Regions from separate parts of the Homo sapiens genome. Here regions 1 and 3 are each linked to region 2. Evidence: fine-mapped expression QTL. A gene starts in region 2. Each other region holds a variant in brackets. All regions are shown on one strand. Distances are between the middles of the regions.

Region 1 (10,149 bases), 70 kb before region 2:
AACCCAGGAGGCGGAGCTTGCAGTGAGTTGAGATTGCACCACTGCACTCCAGCCTGGGCGACAGAGCAAGAACTCTGTCTCAAAAAAAAAAAAAATTGGCCAGGCACGGTGGCTCACGCCTATAATCCCGACACTTTGGGAGGTGGACCACCTGAGGTTGGGAGTTCGAGACCAGCCTGACCAACGTGGTGAAACTTCATCTCTACTAAAAATACAAAATTAGCCAGGCGTGGTGGTGCCTGCCTGTAATCACAGCTACTCGGGAGGCTGAGGCAGGAGAATCACTTGAACCCAGGAGGCGGAAGATGCAGTGAGCCATGATTGGGCCATTGCACTCCAGCCTGGGCAACGAGAGCGAAACTCCGTCTCAAAAAATAAATAAAATTTATTTCATATATATATATATATATATATGAATTAGCTAGGCGTGGCAGCACGTGTCTGTAATCCCAGCTACTCAGGAGGCCAAGGCAGGAGAATCGCTTGAACCTGGGAGGTGGAGGTTGCAGTGAGCTGAGATCGCGCCGTTGCACTCCAGCCTGGGCAACAGAGCAAGACTCTGTCTCAAAAAAAAAAGAAGTGGAGTCACTGTGGCCATCTCTACCCTGCCACCCCGTGAGCTAAGGATGGGTTCTACATTCATAAATGGTCAGAAAAAGACAAAAAGAATATTTCATGACACGTGAAAATGATAGGAAATCCTGATTCCAGTGTCCATGAGTTAAAGCTTCCGGAAGCAGCCGCTCCGTCCACTTCCACGCTGTCTGTGGCTGCTCTCGCACTACAGCGGCAGGCTTGATGAGCTGCCAGAGGCCACCCGGCCCCCAAGGCCTGAGCCATTGTCTGTCCTGGTCAGAAGCTTGCCAGCCCTTCCCTGGGCACAGGTTGGCTTGGCTGTTGTATGCAGCCTCATGGGGGCCCACAGTGGCTGAGTCTGTGGCCTCCTGGCGCCTCAGCGACGGCCACCGCGTCCTTGCTGGCGCGTGCTGTGTGCCTGCCCTCCTGTGCATTTGTCCACGTTTCCTGCCAGGTCATTTGCTCCCCACACTCACGCCCAGCCCTCTGCTGCTTGCCTTCTGCTTGAAGGACGCTCCTGGAATTCCCACCACAAGGATCAGTGACACACTGTCCGCCTTTGTTTACTTGAGAATGTCTTTATTTGGCCATCCCTTGTGACTGTTCTTTCCGTGGCTTAGTATCCTAGTTCAGTGGAGTTTGCTCAGGTGTGTGACAGCACATCACTGTTTCTGGCTTCTGTCGTTGCTCCTGAGAGCCAGGTGAAGTCTCCTAGCACCGCATCTGTCCAGGAAGCCACTGCCTGCTTGTTGCTCATCTGTAGTTTGCAGGTGGGGGTTGCTTTTCCTTTGTTCTGCCAGGCGGCTTCAGGGCTCCCTGTCTGTAGGTCAGTATATTTCACCAGTTCTGAAAACCCCAACCTACTCCTTGACAGCCATTGTTTCCTCTGCCTCTGGGACATCCATCAAATGTACGTTAGCCCTCATTCCATCTTCCGCGTCCCTTATTCTGTCCTCTGCCTTCCCACGTTATTCTCTGTAATAATTTATCTGAAATTTTTTTATCTTCCTATTCACTGGGTAAGTTCTTAATCTTCCTATTTACTGTTTCTCTCTTCTACTGTATCTAGACTGGCACCAAATATGTCCACTGAGTACATTAGTGTTTCATTTCTAAAAGAGCTGTTTGGTTTTCTTTCAAATTTGCTGTATCTGTTTTTAGAATTTTCAGTTCCCGTCATATTCAGAGTTTGTTGTTCATTTCTGCAAACGCTGAGCGTAGCTGCCTCACGGTGCGTCTGCGGTGCCATCTGAGTGTTCTTGGCAGCACTGCCAGGTCTCCCTGGGAGCTGCGCTCTTTGACCCTGTGACGTCCTGAGGCCTGGGCCAGATGCTGCTTCCTCCAGGGAAGATTTGTTCTCCCTCCCAGTAGCTCCCCAGGGACCTCCCACACCACTGCCCTGGGCCCTGTGTGTATAGGCCCAGATTTTTCTCTGTGTCCTTTATTACCAGCTCTGTTTACAGATCCCTGGAGTCAGGGGAAGGGGTGAGCTCAGATCTGAGGCCAAGAGGCCATTTCCCAGCTGGCTGCAGCTGAGCCTGGTGGCTGTGTCTGAGCGTCGTGGAGCCAGGGTCCACGGCACCCAGGTGGCGGGGGGCAGGCGCCCTGACCAGCCACGGCCTCAAAGTGACTCTCCTGCTCTGCTCCAGCCACACCTGCATGCTGTGGCGGGCGCTGGCGGTGGAGCCTCGCCTAGCTGCCCAGGTCCTGGGGCTGCTGCTGGAGAAGATGAGTAGGGACGTCCCTTTCAAGGAGAGCCGGGCCTTCCTGCTGGGCCGCACCCCAGACCGCGTGGCCACGCTGCTGCCTCTCTCGGTGAGTCGGGCTCTCGGGGCCACCTTGACACGCTGTCCCTGCCCCGCTTGCCTGGGTGCCCGGGGGCAGGCCTTTTGATGAGGTGGCCCGGACGCCACCCCACAGGCACCTGGAGGCAGCACCGGGCTGGGAGCTCTGAGCTCAGGCTCGTAAAGGCCTCACAGGTGTGGGCCCCCAGGGGAGGCCACTTCATGTTTTATCCTGCGGAAAAAAAATAAACCCAGCTTGGCAGTGTTTTAAGCAGTAAAGCAGCTGTGAGAATTCCCTCCTCCTCCTTTCTGAGGAGCTGAGAACAGATGGCCTGAGGTCTGTCCTGTGAAGGCTGACTGCCCCTCTGTCCCTGTCTCCTGCCTCTACCCCTGAGGGCCAAGCCATGCAGTGGTGCGCCTCGCCCTTCCTGCGCTGCAGCTGGGATCTGAGACCTCCGAGCACATGATGCAGGCGAAGGGGGATGCAGTCTCATTGGGTGCAGGGCTCAGATCTCCTGCGGCCTGGAGGGAGGCATGGCCCTGTGATGACTTCTCCCCCAGGCTACCTGTGCACTGTTTGAGGTCATGTCCACGCCTGCAGCGGGGCCCGCGGTGCTCGAGCTCTACCCCCAGCTGTTTGTGGTGCTTCTGCTGCGCGTCAGCTGCACCGTGGGTGTCCAGCTGCCCCGGAACCTGCAGGCCCAGGAAAGGAGGGGTGCCAGTCCAGCCCTAGCCACCAGGAACCTGGAACCCTGCAGGTATCTGGGTCCCCACTTCCCACCTCCAGTACTGATTCGGAAGCACAGGCATGCGTGTGCACGCGCGTGGTGGGGGCGGACGGCAGATCTGAACCACGGGGAGTGTGGGAGTGACTTTGCTTCCAGGGAGCTGGCGCCTCACCCAGGTGCAGGGCTGAGCTGTCAGTGGTGACATCCATGGCCACCCTTCTCACACTGGCTGTGAAGGCCTCCCTCCTCGCCTCTGCGGGCGGTCTGCACGGTGGTGCTGAACACAGGCAGCTGGTGGGGGCTTCGTGTGGCAGCTCAGGCAGGATCCGGGTGGTGCCTTCTCCTGGGAGTGGAGTTGTGTGGAGTCTTTGGGGTATAGGCTGGGGTCAACCATGGCAGGACCAGCTTTGTCCCTGAAACTGCCCCAGCAGAGCGGCCTTTGGCACGTGTTCACAGCCCCACACGTAAGAGCTGCCCAGGTGCCTGACATGAAGCATTCCAGGTCCTACACACCTGCCTGGGGCCATAGCACAGACAGAGGAGGCTGACACCCTGGGCAGGCGTGGCTGTGTGGCCTGACCCCAGGACCACGAGCCCATGTGAACGCAGGGCTGCCATGCCGCACCTGCCCAGGAGGGCTCTGGTTCCATCCCACCCAGGCGCCCAGGTTTGGGTGTGCACCTTGGCCAGGACACACCAGGGGGACAGCCTCACTTCAGCCCCTCCCCCTGCCCCCCTTGGCCAGGACACACCAGGGGGACAGCCGCACTTCAGCCCCCTCCCCCTGCCCCAGCACCACAGGCTGCTCAGACCCAGGCCAGCTCGTAAAGCCCAGTGGGGCCGGCTGCCAGCGCTGCTCTGCCCCTAGCAAACTGAGTGGAAAATGTGAATGGGATGGGGCAGCCACCAGCCCCTGGGCCTGGCCTGCTGCGAATCAGTGCCTCCGCCCCGAGCTGTAGGGCTGCGGGCCCCACGCCCACCCCCAGGTGCCCCTTCACTGGGACGATTGCAGAGCCTGGTGTACAGGCCGTTCGCCAGTGGGTCGGACCCTTGTGGGTGCCACATTCTTAAATGTCCTGGGCACACAAACAAGGGAGGCACCCTCATCCAAATCACTAACACATTCGTGAGCCAAACACACGCTTCCCGTTAGATTTGTCGAAGCTGGTTGTGAGTTGCTGTGCCTGCGCCATTTGCAGCCTGGAGCGCAGCCCCTGGTCCAGATGGGGCCTTGCAGGGCTCGAGGCCTGGAGCAGGGTGTGGAGCTGGAGGCAGAGCTGCACTCAAGCTGGGCCCTGGCTCAGACCATGAGGCCCTGGCTCAGACCATGAGGCCCAGCTGAACTGACTGTGGCCCGGTGGGTCCTCCCTCCGCCTGCGGCTGGCCTGGCCTGTATGTGTCAAGGGCATCTCCCAGGAACTGCAGTGACTGGTGTGGCTCTGTCCTCTGCCTGTGGTCAGTGCTGGCTGTCCTGTTCCCAGGGCTGGAAGCCCCCTTGGCACCCAGGCTACCTGGGCTCAAAGATCAGGCCCCAACACTGGAACCATGGGACTCCAGGCTTTTCCAGAGCTGCCTTCTCGTACGTCCGACCTTGGGGAGGGAACCCGTGAGAGAGAGGAGCCTGGGGACACTCATCAAGGGCTGTGTGAGGGGCTGGCCCTGCTGTTGGTCAGCACCAGACCACCCAGGCACACCCCATGGGGACAGTGGTATACTGGGAGCAGGCCCCCAGCACCTCCTTCCTGGGCTGCCGAGACCCCCGTGGCCCTCAGCTCCTACAGCCCCTGTCCAGCTCTCAGGCCGCCTCATTCCTGCCGGCATCACCAGCCCTGTGTACCCAACCGTCCAGAAGCCTCATGGGGCCCATCACCAGATCTCTAACAAGCTTGTCTCATGCTCCTGTGCCCACCACACCCTCCTCCTAGATCCCACCTGCATGAGGGCCTCACACACCATCCAGGCGAGTAGGGCCTGGCCCCCAGCTTGGCGGGGCCACTTGTTCCCTGCTAGGCCCACTCCACGTCGCAGCACACCAGGGGCCCTGTGGGACACCTGGCAGGAGGTGACCAGGGCAGTGGCACTGTCACCACCACCAGCGGTCACCACACGGCCCGTGCCGCTCGGGGGTTGTCTGCTTTTGGGCCAGGTGCTCCTGAGGACGAAGCCTTGTGGGGACAGAGGTCCAAAGGCGGCGGGGGCCTAAGTGTGAGGTGCTCGAGGGCAGCGGAAAGCCACATGGCAGGGGCTGTGGAGTTGAAATGGAGGGTCCTGCTGGGTGGGGACGCTGGTGCAGGGCATCCTCTGCCCCAGACCGTGCCTGTTGGGTCACACACTACGCCCCACCCACTGGCAGCCAGGAGTGGAGCAGCCTCAGCAGGGAAGGGCTCATCTGAGCCGATGGTCGATGCCAGGCTCAAGCTGGGCCCTGTAGAGGCTTCAACATCAGACTCTCCCTGCCAGTTTCTGGCCCAGCCACTGCCAGGGAGACCAGAGGGCAAGGTGCTTGCCTGGTGGAGGTCTGGGGAGTCAGAGAGTTGGCCAAGGTGGCCCCCATTGCACGCCCAGGGCGCCTGCTCTTCAGCACGCCAGCAGCCCCTCCAGCTCTCGGCACCATCCTCCCGCTCACTTGCCAGCCAGCCTCAGCCGACACTGGGAGTGGATCAGGGGCCTGCTCGCCTCCCAGAGGGCTGTGGAGTCTCCTGGGGTACAGGTGTGAGAACCCGAGGTGCCAGGCAGGAACAGGCCCGGGGTGGGGGGCACCTGTGGTGTGGGTGCCCAGCAGCGTCTGGGTGTCCGGAAAGGAAGGCCGGTGCAGCCAGAGGGCTTTGCCTGTGTCCAGCTCTCAGGCTGGTGGCCAGGTGGCCACAGGCTGACCTTGCTACTAGCTCACCTCCAAGCCAACATCTGCGTCCTTGCCTTGGGTGGGGAAATGGGGGGCCTCTAGCAGATGGCCCAGAGCCTGCTTCCTGGAGAGTGGCTCTGGCAGGGATAGGGCTAGCCACCAGGTGGGCAACACGCATTGGGTGCAGACCTGAGGAGTTAATCAGGAAGGGAGGTAGGCGTGTGTGCCCTACCAGCTGAGCACCCTGGCAATCCTGCAGCTCTGCAGTGGACACCCTGCGGTCCATGCTACTCCGCAGCGGCAGCGAGGATGTGGTACAGCGCATGGACCTGGAGGGAGGCTGGGAACTGCTCAGGACCTCGGCGGGGCATGAGGAGGGGGCCACCAGGTTGGCCAGGTGAGCGGGCCCAGCCCACTGCAGCTCCAGCACTGGCTGGGCTCCACCGGATCTCGAGCCCAGAACATGACAGGATCAGGCGGGGGCCCATGCGTGTCAGGCCAATGGTGCCCTGGGCTCCTGCCTGTTCACTCTCTGGGGCAGGGGTAGGGAGGCACCCCTGCAGAGGCCTGGCGAGGCAAGCTGGGAGGCATCTCTGAAACATAGAACTCCCAGAACCTGGCAGCTGGCGGTGGAGCGGACCAGGGCTGTGCAGGGTGGAAGGTGCCTGGGTAGGGTTCAGCACAGCAACAGCCCCTGCACCCTCAGCGGCCCCCTTTCCCAGGGCCATGGCTGAGCACGCAGGGCCCCGACTCCCCCTGGTGCTGAAGACGCTGGCATGCACACACAGCAGTGCGTATGAGAACCAGAGGGTGACCACCACCGCCTTCCTGGCCGAGGTAGGCCCTTCCAGGGACGGATGCTGGGCACCAAGGTGGGGCTCCTGCTCAGGACAGGCACGGGATGC[CCTTTT/C]CTTACCCCTAAAAGGCCCCCTCGACCGTGGTCTGTGAGGGAGGTTATGTGGATGCTAGCTACCTCCTCCCCCATGCCAGAACTCACTCAGTCCCACCCAGGGACACCCCCTCTGTGCCTGGTGAGAGGAGGACCGAGGCTCCCTGCAGCCTGTACTCTCCCCAAGTCCAGCTGGGTACATTTGTAGCTGGACAGGGCTGGCCCCTGGGACCCCAGGTGCCCTTGGTGGTGTGGTCTTGGCCTTCGTGGCCAAAGATGCCAAAATCTTGCCCAAGGCCGTGCAGCAGAGCACAGCGGGCGTCAGAGCAGGCCCCAGCGGCACAACAGGGAGGGGTCGCCACTGATCGGAGACCCAGGGAGTAGGTGCTCCACCTCTGTCTGCCACACCGGCGTGGGGACAGCCTCTGGTGTTCTGGGCCTGGGCTGGTGGGTTGAGCCCTGGGGTCAGCGGGGAGAGGGAAGTCACAGCACCTCTGCCTGCAGCTGCTGAACAGCAACGTGGCCAACGACCTCATGCTCTTGGACTCGCTGCTGGAGAGCCTGGCGGCTCGCCAGAAGGACACATGCGCCAGCGTGCGGAGGCTGGTGCTCCGCGGCCTGGCCAACCTGGCCTCCGGCTGCCCTGACAAGGTGGGGTGGCCACCAGCCCCTCTGGGTCCCAGGCAGCATGGGTGGGGGGCTGTGCATGGAGGCCACCCTGTCTTGTGGGGTAGCAGACGGTGACTCTGGGACCCAGGCTGAGTGTAAGGTATCCTCAGGTGCGAACCCACGGCCCCCAGCTCCTCACAGCCATGATTGGCGGGCTGGACGACGGGGACAACCCTCACAGCCCAGTGGCCCTGGAGGCCATGCTGGGCCTTGCGAGGCTGGTGCACCTGGTGGAGTCCTGGGACCTGCGCTCAGGGCTGCTGCACGTGGCCATCCGCATCCGGCCTTTCTTCGACAGTGTAGGCTGGTTGGGGCAGGGGGAGGGAAGAGGGCCCCAGCCCTTCCTGCCTCTTACTCTGAGCTTTAGCCCCAGCCCCACCCTCCTCCCTGTCTCCCACCTCGGCTAGGTGACCGTGGAGAGCGCGGACCTGCAGGGCTGCTGCTTTGCTGGGCCTGGCAGCCCCCACCCGTAAGGCCCCCACCCGTCGGGGTGTTTCCTGGCCCGGGTCAGGCAAGGGCACCCATCAATGGCAGGGGGCTAGGCAGGCAGGCCTGCAGGGGCACAGCCTGTGAGGAGACGTATGCTGCATGTCCTTCCCAGGAGAAGATGGAGTTCCGGACGGCATCTATCCGCCTCTTTGGGCACCTTAACAAGGTCTGCCACGGAGACTGTGAGGACGTCTTCCTGGACCAGGTGGTGGGCGGGCTGGCGCCCCTGCTGCTGCACCTGCAGGACCCTCAGGCCACCGTGGCCAGCGTGAGTAGCCAGGGGGTGAGTGGGATGGGGTGGGTGGCCTCAACTGGACTTGGCCCCAGTGCCGCATCCCTTAGGCCTGCAGGTTTGCCCTGCGCATGTGTGGCCCCAATCTGGCATGTGAGGAGCTCTCAGCTGCTTTCCAGAAACACCTGCAGGAGGGCCGAGCCCTGCACTTCGGGGAGTTCCTCAACACCACCTGCAAGCACCTGGTGAGGGGTGGGGCCAGGCGGGGCGTGGTGGGTGGGGCGGGGCCAGGCGGCACTGACCAGGCCTCTCCCCAGATGCACCATTTCCCAGACCTGCTGGGCCGTCTCCTGACCACCTGCCTGTTCTACTTCAAGAGCAGCTGGGAGAACGTCCGAGCTGCTGCACCCCTGTTCACCGGTAAGCACCACCCCCTGCCCCACCCCCACGCCGCCCGGCAGCCCCGCCTGATGCCCCCACTTCACAGGGTTCCTGGTGCTGCACTCGGAGCCCAGGCAGCAGCCGCAGGTGGACCTGGACCAGCTCATTGCGGGTGAGCACCCCTCCACGGGGCCCCTCCGCTGGGCCCTGCTGACCCTGTAGGCACCCGCAGGGACTAAGTGATTTTCCTGGATTTCAGGACTTTTTCCCTGTCACTGGTGACCTCATCGTCTCTAGTAATTCACGGAAACTTCTTAACTGTTCCAAAAGAGCTTAAAAAACACTAAAAAAGGAAAAACGATCTTTCCGTTGGCTCCTGAGCCTCCCAGCAGAGGCTGTCAGGAGAGCGTGGCCCACGCGCAGGCATGGGCATGCCGAGGTCACAGCCCGCAGGCAGCCCCCCTCCTCTACCCCCAGCGCTCCAGATCCTGCTGAAGGACCCGGCCCCCGAGGTGCGGACGAGGGCTGCTGAGGCCCTGGGCCGCCTGGTGAAGCTCGCCTAAGGCTCCGGCCAGCACCCCCAGCGAGGAGTATGCACCCAGACCTGTGCCTGAGCTCCAAGACAGGGCCTCCTGAGGACCACAGCCTGGGCACACGACTGGAGGGGCCTGGCCCCAGAACAGGCACTGCTGGGGACCAAACCCAAGCCCTTCAGTGAGGGATGTGCCCAATAAACTCATCTGCTCCCAGCGAGTGACTGACAGGGTGCGATGCTGAGCCTCTTAGGGGATGGGCCAGAGGGTGCCCTGGACTGGCTGTGTTGTCCCCACTGTTTTTGCAAAATTGAGTGAGGGGAAGGCTCGGCGCTGTGGTGGGGGCGGCTTTGTTGGCAACCCCAATTCAAGAAGGTGGGAGCACCAGGCAGCACAGGGTAAAGGCTCTGTTGACTTCAGCACGACCACCCCAGCCCCAGGCAGGCAGAACAGCTAGGTGAAGAGGCGGACAGTCCCGTCTGCCCCCGAGGAGAAGACCCACGGCTGGGTGGGGTGGAAGATGACGTCCAGCACTCCCAGATCTCGGGTCAGCACGTGTCCCTTCAGCACCTTGACGGGCACCAGCAAGGGGTTCTGCAGAAGGTCACTGTGGGGACGAGGAGGGCTCAGGGCACGGCCAGACACCACTGCCCTGGGGAGGGGGCCAGGCAGGGTCAGCACTCACTTGTACACCATGCCATGGCAGACGATGACACTGCCGTCGTCCGAGCCTGACGCAAAGAGTGGGTACCGCGGGTGGAAGGCCACAGCCCGCAGAGCCTTCTTGTGGTGTCTGGGGGGAGGGAACCAGGTTGAAGGCAGGCTCGGGCTGAAGGGAGGGGCTCTGCTGGCCGCCTCCACCCCCAGCTTTCCTCACCTCAGCATCCTGTATGGCTTGGTGGAAAGATCCAGGTCAAACCACACCAGCTTGCTATCGTAGCTCCCACAGATGACGTTGTCACCTAGGGCCAAAGGCTGTGATGCAGGTGTTCCCGCTCTCACCTGCAGGGTGCACTGCCCTGCCCG
Region 2 (10,149 bases):
GCTAGGACAAGGACAGCAAGAGCTTGGCCAGGCCCCCACACGTCCTAGGAAGCAGTGCTGGCTCATATACACTAGCTGCAGGCCCGCCTCACCCCCCATCTGCCGTGCCACTGGGACACCACACACAGCATTGAGCAAGTCCTCAACTTTGTAAGAGGAGAGGCCAGAGCCTCCCTTTCCCTCCCGCACACGCACATCTGCCCCTCAGAGCCCCTAGGCAGGGAGAGTGGGCCTGAGAGCCATGGCAGGAGCCCCATGAGGCAGACGCCCTCAGGGCACCCAAGGCAAGCTGGCTAGGATTGGGGTCGGCAGTCAGACGGCCCTGCCCAGGAGGCAAAGGGCCAGGGAGGCCGAGAGGCAATGCCAACAAGCCCAACCTTTGCTCCCCAAGACCAAGGTTGGTGCAACACATGCCCCATCTACACCTACACAGTTCCTGGACAAGTCTACACTAGTCCCCAAGACCCCCAGGCAGGGAGGATGCTCACACCTTTCCCTCTGCCCATCTAGACTGGAACACAGGGGCAGGCAGCTCCACCCAGCCCCTGCCTCTCCCAGCTCCAGCCTGAGCGCCCTGCATCCACCCACCAGGTCCATCCTGGGCCATGCAGTGAGGCTGTGGTCTCCACCAGAGCCTCCCTCCTCCCCAAGTTGGCAGCTGTCTTCCCAACTGACCACCGCCCTTGGCTCATCTCCCCAGCCTACTCCACTCACTGCCTGCCCACAACCAGGAGGCTGGGTGTAGACACCGCCAGAGCCCCAGCACCGTGACGGGAGCAGGGGCACGAGGCCCAACTGCCCAGCAGCCTCTCTGGGCTGTCTGTCTGGGGGCCTCTCCACTGCCCCCTCTTCCCCAAGTTCGAGCCCATTTGTTTTCAGCAGAACAATCCCAAGCCTCAGGGTTGGCCTTCTTGTACCACGACCTACCAACCACAGCTGTTTCACAGCAGTATGACCCCTGCCCCCTTTGAGCCACCAAGGACACCATGCTGGCTTTATCCATGCCCATCTCCAAGATGAAAACAGGAGTCGGGAAAGGGTGGTGCTTCCCAAAGCTCACTGCAGACAATCCTACACAAGCTTTCTCAGGGGCCCCTTGACAGGCTTCCAAGGCCTTCCTCAACCCAGCCACAGCCTCACCTCAGGCCCTTCACAGGCCTGACCAGCCCCACCCAGAGGCAGCACCCCCACTGCGCTACCCCTACCCCTCACAGGCCCCCATGAGGAGGAAGCCCCAGTCCACCAGTGCCCACAGAGCTCCAAGCAGTCAGTGCGGCCAGCAGCATGTGGGCTACAGGGCAGGCTGCATGGAACGGCATGGGGAGGTGGGATCTGCCCCTGTGCCTAGAGCACCTTTATCACCCTCTCACTGACTGGAGGATCTGCCCAAGCCTCTGCACCTTCCAGCTGTCCCTACACCCACTCCCTAGTCCAAGAAGACTCGGAGCAGCCTGCCCTCCCTCCTGCAGCCCCCAGGCCCACCCAGCCAGCAGGATCCTCTCAGTCTCACGGCAACACTGAGACCTTGGCACATGCCCACCCGCCACCCTGTCTCCAGGTTCAAAGTGTGCCCAAAGGCACAGGTCCCAGTGAGTCCCACACTTGGGGCCCACACAGTGCAGCTCCAGGGCCAAGCACAATGAGGAGGGGGCAGAGTCCAGCTCTGCTCACTGCCGCCTCCTCCACTCTGGCCTCTGGGCTGGGCCTGGGTTCAAGATGGTTGGGGCAGGCTCCCTGCACCTCGCAGACCCTGCTGGAGAGAGAAAGGGAGAGTCAGAAAGGACACCTCAGGGACAAAACACCCTGGGAGAAGCCAGAAACCGGATGGCCCCGACTGGGGTGCCTGTGAGCAGAGGGCTGGTGGGTGTGTGCAAAGAGCCTGGCAGGAGTGAGCCACAAGCAGAGCAGAAAGGGGTGCCCTCTCCTGCCTGCCTCACAGCCTCACCTTGCCACGGGGCCGGAAGAAAGGAGCTCACACCCAGAGCCCAGCCCTAGGTGAGCAGGAAGTGTCCGTGAGGGGAGGAGGCCCGAGCTCAAGGAGTAATGAGGAAGCGGGAGAGGAAAGGCTGGGCTGGGCCAAGAGCAGCAGGAAGCTGGAGGGAGGGGAGGCTGTGAGGCTGACAAGGGGGTGCGCTAGAGGCCAAGTCCCAGGAGGGCAGGCAGAGCAAGGCCTGACGCAGACAGCAGGGAGAAGAGCCCAGTGTCCACAGCCAGTGGCCGAGCCCTGCTGCATCCCTAGGTCTGAGGGACAAGCACACATAGCCTGCAAGTCCTGGAGACCCAGGAGCAGATAGACTTTTGGTCTCAGCCTCCAGCCCCATGAAGGCCTCACCTCTCCATCTACTGCCCCTCTTCCCAAGGAGACCCGACCTCCACGGCAGGGACAGGGACTCACCAGGCCTCTCCCACGAGCTCTGCACCCATCCCACACCAGCAGAAGTACAGGAAAGCCTTGCTGGTTTGCAAAGCAAGAAGGTGACTGCTCTCCCCTGCCTACCCCCAGGTGGCGGCTTGGCCCAAAGCTGGGACTACCCTCATCTCACACTAAAAAAAATCTCAATTCCCGGCCGGGCGCGGTGGCTCACACCTGTAATCCCAGCACTTTGGGAGGCCAAGGCAGGTGGATCACCTGAGTTCAGGAGTTCGAGACCAGCCTGACCAACATGGAGAAACCCCATCTCTACTAAAAATACAAAATTAGCCGGGTGTGGTGGGCGCCTCTAATCCCAGCTACTCTGGAGGCTGAGGCAGGAGAATCACTTGAACCTGGGAGGCAGAGGTTGCAGTGAGCCAAGAATGTGCCATTTTACTCCAGCCTGGGCAACAAGAGCAAAACTAGTCTCAAAAAAAAAGAAAAGAAAAAAAAAGAAATCTCAATTCCCACGTCCTCCACAGGTCATGTAGCCATCCCCCTGCCTCCTGGAGAGAGGGTAACTCCAGGAGCCACACCTCCTTTTCAGGTAGGAGGTGCCTAGGCCAGCCTCCCTCACCAGCACCCCAGGCCCACAGCAGGCAAGCACCCCTCTCAGGAGGGCCACCCTCCTCCCCACGGCCCCTTCAAGGCCTCCGTGCCCGACCTTTGTCCATGTTGCTCCATGCCTGACTCTCGCTGAGGTTATCTTATCTCCCAGATGAACTGAGCACCCTGAGGGCCACGACAGTGCCTGCCCTCCCCCAACCCCCTCCCCATGGTGCCCCGTGAAGGAAAGCTCTGTTCTTGCTCACTGAGAGAGCAAATCATTGCCAACTACATGTCCAAAATCAGCCCACTTCTGCCTTGATAACCTCTAGGCCCTCAGCTGCTCTCTAAAACAAAGCCCTGAGGGCCCCTGGGCCAGGGTAAAGGCCATAAAGGGGGGATGGAGGGTGGCAAGGGGATTGCTCAAGGCCAGCTTGGTGGAGGAAGCCAATGCCCAGGCTGGCCAAGTCCTTCCCATCGGCCATGGTTCTCTCCCTCCACCCCTCTCTGTCAGTCATCCAGCTGAGCAGGGCACACGCCTGCAGGTGTGTCCACCACCCCCATACCCCACTCCCCACCTGGAGGATGGAAGTCCCAACACAGAACCCAACTCTCTGTCCCTACAACAGACGCTGGCTCTGGCAACATCGGCAGGGCTCCAGGCCAGCCTAACCACTGGAGCAATGAATGGGCCACGCAGCCACTCTCAGAAGGGTCTGCAAGGACAAGAACGCCTCTAACACTGCCCCTTGTCCGGGGCAGCTGCTGATTCCCCTGTCCTCGGACAGGCCTGGGCTCCTCTGGCCCCCTCCCTGGCAGGCCAGCCCTCCTCTGGGAGCCTTTCCTACCCGCAAGGCACCGCTCATAGCACCAAGAAGGAACCTATCACCACAAACTGCCCAGATCTTATCTGACTCCTTCCATATAAGGGGACACTGTCCAGGGCCGGGCCCCCACCAGCCCGCCCCTCGAAAAGCTCCTCAGGAGCCCCTGAGGATGCACAGACCCAAGAGGATCTGGATGCGGGACACCTGCCGGCTCCCCTCTGCCTGGCCAAGGCCAGCTCCAGAGCCCCTACCCAGTGACCTTGTCAGGTGACTCTCCCCAAGCCTCAGTTTCCCCACAGGGCCCATAGGGCACACCGATCCCCGCTTAGCCCAGGGCCCATGTTCTCGGACTCGGAGCTCGCGCTTCGGCCAACCCCGGAAAGTCGCGGGGCCCTTGGGTCAGAGGTTAGGGGGTCAGGCGCTCCGCTACCTCAGCTCCCAGTGGCCGCTGCCCACGCCGGCGTCTCCGTCCTTGTTGGGGGCCGGGGCTGGCGCGTCCCCCGCGGCTCCCACGTCGGGGCCCGCAGCGGCGTCCCGCACCTCCTCTTCCGCCGCCGCAGGCCCGCCGCCGCCGTGGCTCGAGGGCCGCGACCCTGTCCTCCGGCGCCGGGAGCTGCCGCGGTCGCCCATGGCCTCAGCCCGCACCCGGCCGCAGCCAAGCGTGGGCCCGCCGGGTTCGTAGCGCCCGAGGCGCGCGGCCCCACCTCCGGGCCCTAGACAACGGCCGCCACTGCCCCCTGCCGGCCGCCGTAGCCCGGGTGACCGCCTCACCAGCGCGTTCAACCCGCCCGCGTCGGGCCCGTCGGCCTCAAGGACAACGGCTGCGTTGCTCCGGAGCCGCTAACTAATGGACGGCCGCCTCTCTCGTCCATTTGTAGTCCGCGGCCGACCTGAGGCGGGGCCTGGAGAGGCTGACGGGGCGCAGGGCACCCTGGGAGTCGTAGTCGCCGCGGGCGCGCCGGCGCAGAGCACCCTGGGAGTCGTAGTCGCCGCGGCCGCACCGGCGCAGAGCACCCTGGGAGCCGTGGCAGCTCCCAGGGCCGGGGCTGCGGGCCGCAAGTGCGCGCAGCGGGAACGGACCTTGCATCGCTCCCGCGTGGTCCCGGGGTCCTGTCCGGCCCCACGGAGCGGGATGGTCCGCTGAGGGGTGCGCTGGGCCCCGACTTCCTGGCCGCTGTGCGCCCGCCCCTCGTCCCACTTGTGTACACACGGGGTCTCGGCGAGTCACTCCGGGCAATCATTTAGGAAGCGCCTAGTGCGCCACGGTCCAGCTGTCCGGGCCGGTGTCCGCGGCGGCTCGCGTCGCCCGCCACCCAGCGCGTTGGTTTCTGCGCACGCAGCTTACAGTAACGTCCCTGGCGCGCTTCTGCTCCGCGAGCCCTCTGGTTACCCCGGCAGGAACCTGCTTTTCTTCGCCTTAGGGGGACGTCAGACAAGGGCCAGGTCAGAAGACCAAGCTGGAGAAATGCACCAGGCCCTGCGTCACCGGGACGCCTGCCTTGCACGCGACTCCCAGGCTCTCCACCTCCCCGCCTGCAGAGCCCGGCGAGAGGAGGGCGAGGGCGAGGGCGAGGGCGCAGGCCCCTTGGTGGTGTCTTCTCAGCCCACCCACTCTCTCCACAAGGAGCTCCACGTCCCTCAACTCTCAGGGCCTCCCAGTTTCCAACGTGGGCCAGCCTCTCCAGGATGTCAGAAGTCTGGGCCGCTGGATCGCCGGGACTCAAGAGGCTTCTGTGCATTTGCACGGCCTGTGCAACCGCCCTGTTGTTTTTTGTTTTCTTTTTTCTTTTTTTGAGACAGTCTCACTCTGTCGCCAGGCTGGAGTGCAGTAGCGCGATCTCGTCTCACTGCAACCTCCACCTCCTGGGTTCAAGCGATTCTCCTGCCTCAGCCTCCCGAGTAGCCAGGACTACAGGCGCGTGCCACCACGCCCAGCTAATTTTTCTGTTTTTAGTAGAGACGGGCTTTCACCATATTGGCCAGGCTGGTCTCGATCTCCTGACCTCGTGATCCGCCCACCTCGGCCTCCCAAAGTGCTGGGATTATAGGCGCAAGCCACCGCGCCTGGCCTGTTGTTATTTTTTCTAAAGATGGGGGTCTCGCTATTCTGCCCAGGCTGGTCTCGAACTCCTGGCCTCACGCAATCCTCCCACCTCGGCCTCTGAAGGTGCTGGGATTACAGGTATGAGCCACTGCCCCAGACATCTTGTATGTTAAATGAAGCAACTAATCAACTGTAACAGCCACAGTTGCGGCCCACCTTGGCTTGGTGTGCATATTGCACAGGGCATGGAGTGAGAACATCCTGGATCTCAGGATGCCAGGGTTCACTGAGGACTCTGACTCTAGAAACACCTTCATTCCTCTGGGGTGAGCAGGGGCAAGCAGCACTTCTCTGGAAGCAAACAGGTGCTCCTCCTGAGGTGGGGTCCTCTCCCGTGGGCTGGTCACAGCCTCGCCTCTGAGCTCCGTCCTCTTCCACCACCTCCACCAACAGTGGCCAGCAGGGCTGCCCCCTTGGTTGCCCCCCTGGTGACATATTCTTGTCACCACAGGCCGCTGTGGGTTGCTGCCAACCAGGTATCAGGCAGGCTGGAGCTACCTGGCAGATGCCCTTTGTGTAGCCTGCCGAGTGGGGCCGCCCTCACTGGACCCAAGAGCCCCTCACACATGGGCCTTGGTCGGTCAGGACCAGCCCCATCTCCTACCCAGTCTCTCAGAATATTCATTTGTTGAATGCAGTCGCTGGCAGACACACTCTGTGGCCAGGTAGGCCCAGACCTGTCTGAGTATGGACTGACAGCAAGCTCAGAGAGGTCTGGACCTGGCCACGGAGCACCTCATGCTAGGCAGAGGAGATCAACGACTCAACCTGTGGTCGCGTCCCAACTCAAAGCCGGCAAGTGGCCACAGGAGAAAGACAATGGGAGGGTGGACTGGACCACCAGGGAGGATGGGTCGGGCCTGGTGAGCAGAGCCAGGCTTGGAGCCAATGGGGAAAGCACTGGCTGTGGGCGGGCCATTAAGGAAGGGCTTTGCCACCGGGGGTGGGGGCGTGGCGGGGCAGCAGCTCCAGAGGTGGGTGAAGCCCTGCCCAGACAGGCCCTATACCCTGGGATCTAGGGTGAGGGGAATGGTCAGGGTAGGTGAGGTTGGTTGGGGACAAGGGTGTGTATGGCTGGGTCATCGAGGAAAGCATGATGCAGATCACCCTGCTGGGGGCAGCAACAAATGAGGGGGCCCAAGCCCGAAGCGAGTTGCCTTCCAGGGCTAGTGGAATAAAGGGCTGGAAGTGGGTTGGGGCCTCAGGCTGATCCCAGGGCCTAGGGGCCATGGGTGGGCCAAGAAGGCCTGTGAGAAGCAAGGGTCCCAGGAGAGTTCACAGCCAGTGGTGGTCTATGGCCTGTGCTGCTCATTCAGAGGGAAACTTGTGTCTGTGGCTGGGAGGAACTGGGGGGTCGAGCTCATCCCAGGCCTCAGGGAGGCCACCTCCATCCTTCCACCCACTCTACGCATCAGAATCCTGGAGAAGTAGAAACAGCCAGTCGCTGTTGGAGTCCTTTGGAAGGAGTGAGGCTAGGAGCCTTCCTCCTGGCCATTGCTGTCTGCCATTGTCATTGCTGGTAGTGCTCTCCCAAAGAGAGCACCCACCTGCACCACAGCTCCTCCAAGTGCCAGGCACACAGGCCATGACATGCTGCAGACCTGGTTCCCCTGCTCTCCACCCTAGTGGAGTCTGGGCAGGTCTGTCCCCTGTCCCTGCTAGGGTGTGGGCAGCTTTGCTGGCCCTGGATCTAGGACTGACCTGGTTTGAATGTATGTGCCCGAAGACTTTGGGCCTCTCGGCTCATGCCTGCCTACCTGGTTACCAGGGGACATTGCTGGGCAAAGGGTCCCTGTCCCTTATCTCCTCCACTACTCATTCTGTCTAGAGCCCTTGGGCGATGGTTGCAGAAGCCTCTCTGCCCCCTGGGCACCTCCTCCCTGGAACCGGTCCAACCCAGCTATCCATGGAGGCATCCGCAGACACTGGGGGAGCATATCTGGGAAGCCTGGGGGTCAGAATGTGGGCAGCAGGCCACAGGAAAAGGGCCAGACCTCGAACTCTCCACTGTCCCCATTTCCTGCAACAGCATCTCAGAGGGCTTGAGGTGGCTATCAGGCCTTCCATCACAGCATAAAGCTCCTTCAGGGAGAGAAGAGCGAAGGCACCCAGGCTGGGGAACAGCAGCTCCTACTATACCTACCCTGCCCACTCTGGTCCAACCGTGGGCTTGGCCTGACTTTAGACTGGAACCCCTTAGTGCTCCTGTTCCTGGTGTGGAGCAGATCCACCTACCCCAGGGGAAATGCCAACTACTTTGCCTTCAGACCTGATGCTCCTGTGGTTGGGCCTGCCAAGCCTGCCCTCCCCAGTGGAAGAAGAGGGCCGTCTTGTGAAAGGCCTCAGGCTGACCCTTGCAGCACCAGCCTCTGAGGTACTGCCAGACTGGGAAGACCCTCCCAGCCACCCAACAGCGTGGGCCCAGCCCAGGACACATCAGCCCGACACTCCAAATTCTATCAAGAGTGGCATTTATTCTCCTTGTGGAGGTGCGGTGCTCCGGGGAGCTGGTGCTATTGTGCTTAGGAAGGAGGTCTGTCCGTCCGTCCGTCTGTCCGGCCGGCCTGGCCCCAAATGGGGGCGGAAGAGGGGCACGGCCCGAGTAAAAATCCCGGCCTATTCCGGGTGGGAATATGTACAAGGCGGCGGGGCACAGGCGGGGGTGGGGGCGGGCGGGCCGGCGGCCGCAGCCCCCACCCGAGGGCCCCCGCACCTCGGGCCCTACTTGTAGAATCAGTACAAAATAGGTGCTACCTAAACGTTCCTTCTACCTGAATTCGCTAAGTCGGTTATTGTGCTGCTTAGTTATGGGGGCGGGAGGGGGCCCATGGCTTTCCACGGCGGCGGGGTGTAGGGGGAAGCAGGAGACCCTGACGGGCCCACAGCCCTCCAGCTTTCTCCTTAGGTAGGTAGACAGGAGTATGGGGTGGGGTGAGGTGGGGGCGCCTGTGTGTGCGTGTGCATGCGGCACAGGTGGGCAGGCCCCAGCTTGGGAGCTGTGCAGGCACCACACCTGGTTGTGTAGGGTGTTTGGATGTGGGCACTGCTGTGCAGAGCGGTGGGTCATCCTTGTGGGGGCAGCCACGCTTGCTGCTGGGGGTGAGGCTGGCCACACCATAGGCTACAGCTGGCACCTTCTTCTCCAGCCATGGCTCTGCCCCTGGCTGGACATGGCAGATGTGTGTTGGCCAGAGGATCAGAGAAGTGGCCACCTGTGTGGGGGCCCAGGAGCCCTGGATCTGTCCCCCTCAGCTGGAGTCAAAAGGCCTAACTCAAAGGTAGAGCCCAGTTGTGCCCAGCAGGGACTGGTTGAGGTGGGGAGGAGTGTAGGGGGCATGTGAACCTAGGGACCTGGTCTCTCTGCATCTGCCGTTCTTCCCTGGCCCACCCAAGCCGGTTGGACCCCTGTCCTGCAAACACACCTCCCAGCAGGTGGCTGCGCTCCTGGCGGACTCAGCAATTGGCCTGGCACATAGTAGGTGCTCAATGAACGGTCAGTGAATGATTAATGCCTGAAGGAGGGGTCTTGGGGGCAACCACCCCACCCCCGCCCATGGAACCATTACAGCCGCCGGGCTCTGCCGTGGGGGTCGGGGAGGGGTGGGGAGAAAGTCTGCGCGGCCGGCCCCGCGCAGCGTCCCTGATCTAGGGGCCTATGGGGTGGGTAGGGCGAGGGGATACCTGATTCTCAGTAACTCTAGAGGCGGCGGCAGCTTCGCATGCAGTGCGCATTATTGCTCTATAGTCGGCTTCGGACTACCTAAGAGGGAGGGGGAGCGGGCAGCCCCGGGTAGGATCGGGAGGAGGGGTGGGGCTGCATGCAGTGACGTCACAAAGGCGGCGGCCAATGGGGCGGGCCCTTGGGGCGGGGTCGCCGCCGAGGCTTTGGCATAGACGGGCGAAAGTTGGCAACCGAGTGGGGGCGGGGCCTGGGTCTCAGGGGCGGGGCCTGGGTCTCAGGGGAGGGGCCTGCCTCGGAGAGGCGGGGCCTGAGGCTCCCTAGAGGCTCCCAGCTAGGGGCGGGCCTCGGGGCGTGGAAAGTAATCCCGGACATCCCAGGCCCCCGGCGTCGGCGGGCAAGATGGGGGTTCAGCGCCCCCTCCCTGACCCGAGTGCAATCCGTTCATAAATAAAACGTACAAATACAGAAAAAGAAACCCGACGCGTCCGCAACCCCCCCAGGGGGCTTTACCCGCAAAGCGAAGACAGAGGTGTGTAGAGGGCAGCGCCCAGGCCTGCCTGCCGGCCCCGGGAATCCG
Region 3 (10,149 bases), 47 kb before region 2:
CTCCCCCGGCCTCCGCGCTCCGTTTACAATCATCATCGATTTCTCAAAATACCAAATATAAAAAAGTAGCCGACAGGATGTGGCTGCCGACAGCCAGAGCCCCTGGGAGGGGGAGGGGAGACAGGCAGGGAGTGCGCGGCGTGGCCCCCCCGCTCTGAGTGAGCCCGCTGCTCCGGCCAGGAAACCAATTTATTTTGTTTTGTCTCTGTTCTCTGAACGCGCAGCAGAGACCGGATCGGGCGGGCGGCCAAGGCTCCTGCAGCCACAGCCAAGAGAGCCGAAGGATGGGGGAAGAACCTGGGGGGAGGGGGGCGCGTGTCTCCCCCAGGCCCCCCGGGGACAGTTCCTGACAGGCAGGCAGGAAGAGCTCCTTCAGGAAGGCCCTACACCAAAGCCTTCTCCTTCCCCCACAGCCCCCAGGGCCCAAAGGAGACTCTGCCTCACACCCAGGTGCTCCACTGGGACCACAGTCCTACCCTGGGGCCAGGCCACACTGAGGAGGGTATAGGCAGGCACTGCCTCTGGCTTCAGAGCTTCTCAGAGCTTCCAGCCCCTCCCAAATGAGGGCAGCCCCCCGCAGCCAAATCTGCTCTTGGACACAGCCCAGTGCCAGCCTCTCCACGCCGGCGGAACCCAGCCCGGTGCCAGCCTCTCCACGCTGGCGGAGCCCAGCCCGGTGCCAGCCTCTCCACGCTGGCGGAGCCCAGCCCGGTGCCAGCCTCTCCACGCTGGTGGAGCCCAGCCCAGCAGCACGCATCCCCCTTCGCCTGCAAGCTCCTTATGAGAAACAGCCGACCTCCTGCCCCTCCTGAGATGTGCTCCTGGGACTCAGTCAGAGGTCCAGAGGCAACGGCCCCAGCCCACATCAGCCACCACCAGGGGTGGGGGGCAGGGGGACCCCAGGGGAAGGGAAGGGCCACCACTGCCCAGAACATCAGGACATTAGGAGGTGGCCCTGGCCCTGTTCTGCCCGCCTGGCCCCCAGCCAACCTGTGGCCCACCCCACAGCACACACGACAGGGGCACCACCCATGCCCGTGACCCCCACCCCGACCATGACCCCCACCCAGACCATGCACGCCACGCCCAGGGAGCCCACAGCCACCCTGCAGACGCCACAGGAGCCCCCAGAGCCCGTCCACAGGCCAGACACAGGGGCATGGAGCCACACCCAGGTCCTTCCCCTTCACAAGCCATGATGACACACATACATTGCAGTCTTGTGTCCCAGACCCCGAAATTGCTCTTGCAGATGGGGAAGCAGGACGCCCACGTGGGCCTCGGCTCCAACAGTGCGGCCCACCTGCGGCAGGTCCCAGCACCCCCAGGGCAACCCCAGCCCCAACCCCCAGCACCTGCTAGGCTGTGATGGAAGCCGCCCCACCCTGCCCAGTGGGAAGCAGCCCCAGTCCTACCTCCTCATCAGAGCTGTCCTCCGCATACTCATCCCCAATCCGGGCGCTCGCCATCTCTGTCCTCGGGCAAGGAGTGCTGGCCTGCAGAGAGAGAGAGAAAATGGTCACTTCAGGGGATACAGGGTACCCTTTGACCTTGGGGGGATCCCAGGAAGCCCACCACCCCGAAATCTCTGAGCAGCTCCAGCCTGGCACAGGCCTCAGCACAAGGCCGAGAACACCCAGCTCTAAGGGGGCCTCTGGGGGCTGTGGCTGGCACCCGGCGCCGCAGGTCCTGCCCACGGCCCTGTCCTCTGTGAGGGCTGGACTGCAGCCTCCCGGGGCCTCTGTCCCTGGGCTGACACGGGTGTCAGGCTAGACACGGAAGCCACTGGGGCAGTCAGGAGCAAAGCCGCCAGCTGAGGACCAAGACCCACCGCCAACCACCCGTACCCCCATTCATGTCAAAGCCACAGGACTCCTCCCAGGGGCCCCACATGGCGCTCCTGCCGAGCCCCGCCTGGGACGGGGGCAGCATGGTCGGGGGGAAGAAGGAGACGCAGCCGTCGCAGCAGGGTCACTGGGGCCAATGCTCTTGAAGGGGCGGGGGACACACATTGTCCACCCATCCCGGGGGCCACGTCCCGCCCAGTCCAGCCAGCAGAGGGCCCAGAGAGGGCCCCGAACACTCAGAAGGCCTGCCCAGCGTTCTCCCACCCACCACGTCCACAGCCCAGGCTGACCCCATCCCGCCGGGTCACAGAGTGGGCGCCACTGAGAATTCACATCCCAACCTGGAAAACAGATTCTGCCCTCGACTGCGGAGGTGAGGATGGCTCCAACCGGATCGGGTTTACTGGCGGAACCAAGGCTGATGGGGAAAACAGGCCCACCTCTCACCCGTGGGGGCAGTAAAGTGCTCGGGCGCAGGAACCCCAGAGCGAAGGCGGGCACGCCCCCGCCCCCACCCCGAGCCCCTCTTCTCTCCGGCCCGGGCTCCTCCCCTGCCTGTTTTTTCCTTCAATATAAAGAGAGATGGGAGACTAAGTTTTTTCCCAGGCCAGGAACAAGGAAGGATTCAGTTTCCACGTCTCCCCCTGCTGCTGACAGTGGCCTGGGGCGCTCAGTGACACGGAGCTCTTGCCCCTGCCTGGAGCACATGAGCCCCCACAGCCGCAGCAGATCCGTGACCCCGGCCCCAAGCCCCAGACGCGCACAAGGGCAGTTCCACACCCGGCTGCGGTCGGCTGCCCCCGCCTGGCCTCTGCGGACGGGTACCGGGCTGGGCTCCCGACCCCTCACAGTGGCCGGGGCTGAAGCACCGCACGCTGGAGTCCCAGCCTCGCTGCTCATGGGCCGCAGTCCCAGGGTCCTGGCAGGTGACAAAAGACTTGTCACCCAGCGCTCTGTGCCCCGTGGCCCCTGTGCTGGATGTGGACAGGCCACGGCACAGGCAGGCTCTGGGCAGGGGGCAGAGGTGGCCTTCGAAGGTGCTGGGTTCCCAGGGGCGCAGCATCCCCGTGGGACAGCTGTGGGGCACAGAGTCCACCAGGGGGCGACGGCGCTCAGCCAGGCCCAGCGCCCGAAGGGCAGGGGCGGTGCGGGCAGGGGCGGTGCGGGCAGGGGCGGCCACTGCTGGGAACTGCCTGACCTAGAAGGCCCCTTCAGATTTTGGAGGCAGATGCTGTGGGGCATTGAACGTATTTTTTTTAACTTAAAAATTAGAGGAAAAGGCCACCAAAACCCTAACGACACAGACAACGGAACATGAGCCCACGCCACGCTCCGGACTCCTGGGGACAGGACCCCCTCCCGCCACGCCCATGCCTGGAGTCAGCCCGGATTCTCCAGGGTCTCCAGCACCACCCGCAGTGTGCGTGGCCTGACTGAGGAGGGGTCGGGCCCGATGGAGCACGAGAGTTGCGTGAGGGTGAAGTAAAAGCTGAGAGAGTGGGCGGGCGAGCGCCACTGGGCAGAGGCAGGCGGGTCTGAAGGACCGACGGGTGGGCAGGGAGCCGCCGAGGGGGAGCGCAAGGACGAGGTGCCAGCAGGATGCGGGGCCGCTGGGGCCAAGGAAAGGCTGCTGTAGTCCCTGAACCCTGCGTGGCCTCTGCCCAGCCCCAGGGCTAGAATGTCACCATGAGGACCAAAGGGAGAAACCCACAGTGGGCTCAGCCAGACAGAAACGGTGTCCAAGCGCATGAGCCCCCTATTGTGACCACACCAGAGCCTCCCCTCCCCAGCATCAGGCCAGCCAGGCCGTGCCCCACTGCCACCAACCAGGCATGAGACACGGGCTCTGCCCTCACCTCCTGGGAGAGGATGGCGACAGAGCTGCGGTGTCCCGGTTCGGTGGGAAGAGAACTCTGCTCCCAGGGCTGCCCACAAGAGGGTTCTGCTGGAGACGTGGACAGCAGGAGGGAAGCAGTCCTAACTTGCCCAGAGACCAGAGCCAGAACATCGCTGTCGGGGTGCCAAGGACACCAAGACAACCCAGCGCTGCACCACAGACCCCACACCCAGCACCTCAGCACGGCCAAGGCTCCCTAGGGCCCTGCCCACGCTAGCCGCAGGGTGCCCAGCACAGAGACAGGCTGCTATCCAAGAGCTCTGTGCCGATGGCTCGTGTGACAGCAACGACTCATCAACAGGTACCTAGGAAACCCACATTTTGTTTTAAAGAAAGTACATCAGCAGGAACTGAAAAGCCCAGAGAAAATACAGCCGAAAAACATCCCTTTTTACTCAGGGAAAAGGAAGGTAACTCGGGGCAGGAGCCCAAGAGTGGCAGGGTCGTTCCCAGGCATGGAGGCCAACCCTGCATGAGGCACTGGCCATGTGTGCTGCCACCAGAGGCCCCAAGACCACCACGGGCCATGACCACCAAGGGCCATGACCGTCACGGGCCACGACCGCCATGGGCCATGACCCCCATGGGCCTCAAGACCACCACAGGCCACGACCACCACGGGTCTCAAGACCATCATGGGTCTCAAGGACAGGCCCCAAGACCACTGCGTGCCACGACCGCCACAGGCCCTAAGACCACCATGGGCCCCACGATCACCACAGGCCACAACTGCCACAGGTCCCCTATACCACCATGGGCCCTGACGATCACAGGCCACAACCACCATGGGCCACGACCACCACAGGCCCCAAGACCACCACGGGCCAAGACCACCATGGCCAAGACCACCACCAGCCATGTGCTCAGCCACCTTAGGACCACCACAGACCAGAGACCACTCCACAGCACTGTGACTCGGTGCCCCACTGCAGACAGCTGTGCAGAGAGGGGCCCAAGGACCCCCATCTATCAGGCCTGGTTTAGATGAGACCCTGGCAGTGGAATGAGGTTCTGGGGAGCGCTGGGGGAAGAGACTATTTGGCAAGCGTAAGGGTGACTGTGACCATTTTAAAACACGGCCACAAACCTTTGATTTTCATCGCATCAAGAGACAGAGTCTATGTCCCCCCCGCCGCAAATCTGGGTGGGCTTGTGGCTGCTTTACCCACCCAAGGGAGGCAGCCCACACTGACACCACAGGATTCTGGGCTGAGGTCGTGAAGGCCGTGTGGCTCTGCCTGGCACAGGAGACCACGTCCTTGCAGCCCTGAGCCCTGGGAGAGGGGACAGCTGGACAGGGGTACCCTTCGTGAACATGGCTGTCAGGGGCGGTCTGGACACACAAGAGGCCCGGCTGTGCTCACCTGAGATCCTCACCCAAGTCCCAGAGCACAGGATGTGAGCTGAGTGTCGATCTTCCTCAGGTGGAATGTACCAGAACCCTCTGGGGCTCCCCGGCCCCTCAGCATGACACTGTACTCAGGGTGTACTGACCCTGCTGCTTTCGGCCTGAACTCTGACCCCTCGAATCCAGAATGCTACAAAATATCTGTTTGATGCTGCAAAGTGTCAGGGCAGGTGGCAGAACAGCTGCCTGACTCCCCCATGGGGGCCAAGAAGCTTGGAGCTG[G/A]CAGTCTTCAAAAGAACCCAAAGCAAGGCCACAGGCAGAGGCAAGAGCGGAGTTTACCACCAGCCCTGGCCCCTGGTTCCATCCCCAGCTCTGTGGTCCACACCCAGGCAACTTCTCCACCACTGACCAGCTGGTGAGAATCACTGGGCAGCCCCTTTCCAGACTCCACAGAGCTGCAGCTCCAGACCACTCTCCAGCAGACGGCACCAGCACCCAGACCCCAGAACCACAGCGACAGGGGGCCCGAGCCCAGGGTTCCCACGCTGCAGCAACGCGGCCTGCCACCTGCCATTCCCAGAGCCTTCGCTGAGACGCTGGCGGGATCCCCTGCCCAAGAGTGTGCATTATGCTCCGGCACAGGCCAAACTCTCCTTAAATTATCTGGGAAGGCCGGGCCCAGTGGCTCACACCTGTCATCCCAGCACTTTGGGAGACCGAGGCAGGCGGATCAGTTGAGGTTAAGAGTTCGAGACCAGACTGGCCTACATGGAAAACCCTGTCTCTACTAAAAATACAAAAAATTAGCTGGGCTTGGTGGCGCTCACCTGTAATCACAGCGGGAGGCTGAGGCAGGAGAAAGAACTGCTTGAATCTGGGGGGTGGAGACTGCAGTGAGCTGAGATCAGGCTATTGCACTCCAGCCCGGGTGACAGACAGACTCTTGTCTCAGAAAAAAAAAAAAATCTGGAATCATCACTTTAATACCAGGTCTTCGGCCTTCTCTCACTTTCATACCAGGTCTTAGGCCTTCTCTCAGTTTAATACCAGGTCTTTGGCCTTCTCTCACTTTAATACCAGGTCTTCGGCCTTCTCTCACTTTCATACCAGGTCTTCGGCCTTCTCTCACTTTAATACCAGGTCTTAGGCCTTCTCTCACTTTCATACCAGGTCTTCGGCCTTCTCTCACTTTAATACCAGGTCTTCGGCCTTCTCTCAGTTTAATACCAGGTCTTAGGCCTTCTCTCAGTTTAATACCAGGTCTTCGGCCTTCCCTCACTTTCATACCAGGTCTTTGGCCTTCTCTCAGTTTAATACCAGGTCTTCGGCCTTCCCTCAGTTTAATACCAGGTCTTCGGCCTTCCCTCAGTTTAATACCAGGTCTTCGGCCTTCCCTCACTTTCATACCAGGTCTTTGGCCTTCTCTCAGTTTAATACCAGGTCTTCGGCCTTCCCTCAGTTTAATACCAGGTCTTCGGCCTTCCCTCAGTTTAATACCAGGTCTTCGGCCTTCTCTCACTTTCATACCAGGTCTTTGGCCTTCTCTCAGTTTAATACCAGGTCTTCGGCCTTCTCTCACTTTCATACCAGGTCTTTGGCCTTCCCTCAGTTTAATACCAGGTCTTCGGCCTTCCCTCAGTTTAATACCAGGTCTTCGGCCTTCCCTCACTTTCATACCAGGTCTTTGGCCTTCTCTCACTTTAATACCAGGTCTTAGGCCTTCTCTTACTTTAATACTAGGTCTTAGGCCTTCTCTTACTAGTGCTTTTTTCTTTCAAGACAGAGTCCCACTCACTCTGTCACCCAGGATGGAGGCAGTGGCATGATCTCAGCTTACTCTAACTTCCGCCTCCCAGGCTCAAGCAATTCACATGAGGTTTCACCATGTTGGCCGGGCTGGTCTCGAACTCCTCAAGTGATCCGCCCACCTTGGCCTCCCAAAGTGCTGGGATTACAGGTTTGGCTCACCGCATCCAGTCTTTTCTCACATTCTTGACTGTGACAAGCAGATTAACTGATAAAAACAGAAACTTCTGCACAAAATAATAAAAAGAAAAACTCACATAAATGAAAAGACAAAACCAAGCAAAGCTGGGAAAAAAATGAATCTAAATGAGCACAGAAAGGAAAAAACAGCTCTGAGCGCACGGACCCCACAGATCCACTAGACACCAGCGATAAAGAGAAGGCCCTGCAACCAGTCCTCGCTCCGGTGAGCCCGCGGCCCGCGCTGCCGTGTGCTGCTGGAGAGGGGACAGGAAGCGAGGCACAGGCCGGCAGGAGGCAGCTTCCTCCCTGGCTGGTCAGTGGAGGGCTGGGAGCACCCGTGTCAGGGGTGCTGCAGGGCAGGGAGCACACAGCCCAGGGCGCCCCTCCAGTGGGATGGCTCGCAGACACAGTCAACAGCTGGAAGGGCAGGGGCTGCAGAAAGTCCCAGGGAGTAGGAACCAGGCCAGGAGACAGAACTCGTGGGTCATCAGGTGGCACAGAACGCAATTAAGAGGCAGGACTGCCAGGCCCAAGGCAGGGAGGCTGGAGATGGGGTGGGCCCTGGGGTGAGGCTGGCCCACCAAGCTCGTGCCAGAGCAGGTGGACCCAGAAAGAGGGGTCACTGTAGCAGGGACGCAAAGGGTGGGGAAGGGATGCCTGCCCTCAAACCACACAAACACAAAAATAAATCAAACCCACTGGCCCCAAGGAGGCTACTAGCAACAGCTGTGGGCCCTGCCGTGGCCCACAGATACCCCAGGGAAGGAAGGGGGAGGTACAGCACCCACCCCATCTTCTTGGGCCCTGTCCCTGTCCTCATCCCTATCCTCTGACCACCCCCCAGACACAGAGTACCCTTCTTCACCTTCACTCCTGAGCTCCTCATGCCAACAGTCAGGGGAGGAGCTGCAAAGGGCACAGCCAGACCCTGCTCCTTGAGTGCACCTCACAAAACACCAGGACTCCTGACCCCAGAAACACAGACAGCAAATGCTCGTTGTTGAAAGGCACTATGGTGGCCAGGTGCGGTGGCTCACGCCTGTAATCCCAGCACTTTGGGAGGCCAAGGCAGGTGGATTACCTGAGGTCAGGAGTTCAAGACCAGCCTGGCCAACATGGTGACACTCCCTCTCTACTAAAAATACAAAAAAAAAAAAAATTACCCGAGCGTGGTGGCTGGCATCTGTAATCCCAGCTACTCAGGAGGTTGAGGCACGAGAATCGCTTGAACCCAGGAGGCAGAAGTTGCAGTGAGCCGAGATTGTGCCACTGCACTCCAGCCTGGGCGATAAGAGCAAAAAAACTCCATCTCAAAAAAAAAAAAAAAAAAAAAAAAGAAAGGCTCCATGGTTTGGGGCAGTTTGTTGTGGTGCCAGATAACAAAACAAACAAACAGAGAGAAAACAGCAAAGGGCTCCTGGCCCAGGGAGCTCAGACCAAAATGACAAGAACCAGCTAGCTGTCCTGCCCTTGGGCAACAGCCATGAGGGTTTCCAGCCAGCTAAGTGCATGGATGATGCCGCCACAGGGAAGAGACAGAAGGGCTTCCGGGACTGGGACCACGGGCACGCACCGCCATGCCTGGCTCATTTTTTAAATTTTCTGTAAAAATGGGGTCTCATTATATGGCACAGGCTGGTCTTGAACTCCTGGGCTCAAGAGATCCACCTGCCTTGGCCTCCCAAAGTGCTGGGATTACAGGTGTGAGCCACTGGGCCCAGCCTGTGACTCATTCTTTTTATTTTTATTTTTTCAGTTAAGCCCAGCTGTGCGAGCCTCATTCTTAATGAAAGAAAAACATCACTAAACAAGAGGAAAAGATGAAGCAGCAACACCATGAGGGAGGCTGGTGGTGGGAAAGCAGCTGAGGGGCGGCTGCAGTAGTGCATGGCATCACCGCCTAGCGGAGGGACGCTCCAAGCACCTTCACAATTAAATGCATTGATGGCCAGGTGCGGCGGCTCACGCCTGTCATCCCAGCACTTCAGGAGGCCAAGACAGGTGGATTACCTGAGGTCAGGAGTTCGAGACCAGCTCAGCCAACATGGTGAAACCCGTCTCTCCTAAAAATACAGACATTAGCCGGGCGTGATGACGGGCGCCTGTAATCCCGGCTACTCAGGAGGCTGAGGCGGGAGAATCACTTGAACCCAGGAGGTGGAGGTTGCAGTGAGCCGAGATTGCACCACCGTACTCCAGCCTGGGCGACAGAGCGAGACTCTGTCTCAAAAAACAAAACAAAACAAAACAAAACAAAACTAGCCAGGCATGGTGGCGGGGACCCTGTAGTCCCAGCTACCAGGGAGGCTGAGGTAGGAGGATCCCTTGAGCCCAGGAAGTTGAGATTTTGGTGAGCCAACATCGCACCACTGCCCTCCAGCCTGAGTGACAGAGTGAGACCCTGTCTCAAACAAAAAAAAGCATTTATCCTTTGACCTAGAAATTCTCTTGGAATTTTCCCCAAGAATGGTGTGCACATGTGAGAAACAGCATGTTACTGTCAGGTCAACTGTAAGAGCAAAAGCCTGCAACTGCCCACCCACTGGAGCTGTTGAGGCCGAGCTGCCAGGCACTCTACGGGCACCAAGCACTGTACAAACCAGAGCCATGGCCTCCCTGACAGAACCATCCTGAGACAGCGCACGGCTGCCCCTTCTCTTAAGAAACCACCATTCAAAAACTCTGTGCGAGTTTGGATATGTCTAGAACATCCTGGAAAGAGACTTCAGCACTGGAAACAGTAGTTGCCTGGATGCAGCAACAGGAGCCAGGAGGGAAGGGTAGGAGACTCGTTCCCTGGCACACCCCTCAGGAGCACCTGAGCATCCAAAGGTGCCCTAGAACACCACGTGCAGCTGCTCACTGAATGCCACGTAATTCTACACAGTCCTTAGAAAGGAGGCAGGGTCGTGTGCATGTCAATGCTAAAGGCCTGAGGGCAGAAAGCCAGAGGGAAGCCTGTGGCCCGGCCCTGCAGCCAGAAGCACGCCCACCCTGGGTCCACCCAGGCAGGTCCGGAGCCCTTGGCAGGTCGCCAGGTCTCCACAGGGGCCGCCAGCAGCTGACCC

Evidence for each region.
Region 1: its variant is fine-mapped to the expression of DGAT1 in whole blood (INTERVAL, PIP 0.96).
Region 3: its variant is fine-mapped to the expression of DGAT1 in whole blood (TOPMed, PIP above 0.99).

The regions. Positions count from the first base shown.
Region 1 is chr8:144,252,588-144,262,736 of GRCh38, forward strand. MROH1 (maestro heat like repeat family member 1) reads left to right here. Exons shown (of 44, transcript NM_032450.3): 34 at 2,226-2,391; 35 at 2,922-3,118; 36 at 6,190-6,327; 37 at 6,653-6,767; 38 at 7,324-7,470; 39 at 7,599-7,787; 40 at 8,090-8,245; 41 at 8,320-8,454; 42 at 8,527-8,629; 43 at 8,697-8,762; 44 at 9,068-9,339. The coding sequence ends at 9,153. BOP1 (BOP1 ribosomal biogenesis factor) reads right to left here. Exons shown (of 16, transcript NM_015201.5): 14 at 10,001-10,085; 15 at 9,809-9,916; 16 at 9,458-9,730. The coding sequence ends at 9,577. MIR7112 (microRNA 7112) reads right to left here; the gene lies at 10,086-10,149. Among named protein-coding and RNA genes, the nearest start is that of MIR7112, 5.1 kb to the right of the region's middle. The variant CCTTTT/C (reference allele first, on the strand shown) is at 6,836.
Region 2 is chr8:144,322,221-144,332,369 of GRCh38, forward strand. It overlaps DGAT1 (diacylglycerol O-acyltransferase 1), which reads right to left and starts at 4,632. Exons shown (of 17, transcript NM_012079.6): 1 at 4,217-4,632. The coding sequence starts at 4,416. It overlaps SCRT1 (scratch family transcriptional repressor 1), which reads right to left. Exons shown (of 2, transcript NM_031309.6): 2 at 8,345-10,149. RefSeq lists enhancers at 1,708-1,767, 9,648-10,149, 10,093-10,142 and silencers at 4,259-4,328, 4,339-5,058, 9,643-9,932.
Region 3 is chr8:144,274,809-144,284,957 of GRCh38, forward strand. It overlaps BOP1 (BOP1 ribosomal biogenesis factor), which reads right to left. Exons shown (of 16, transcript NM_015201.5): 3 at 1,416-1,496. Among named protein-coding and RNA genes, the nearest start is that of BOP1, 12 kb to the right of the region's middle. RefSeq lists silencers at 1-66, 3,000-3,049 and an enhancer at 59-701. The variant G/A (reference allele first, on the strand shown) is at 5,375.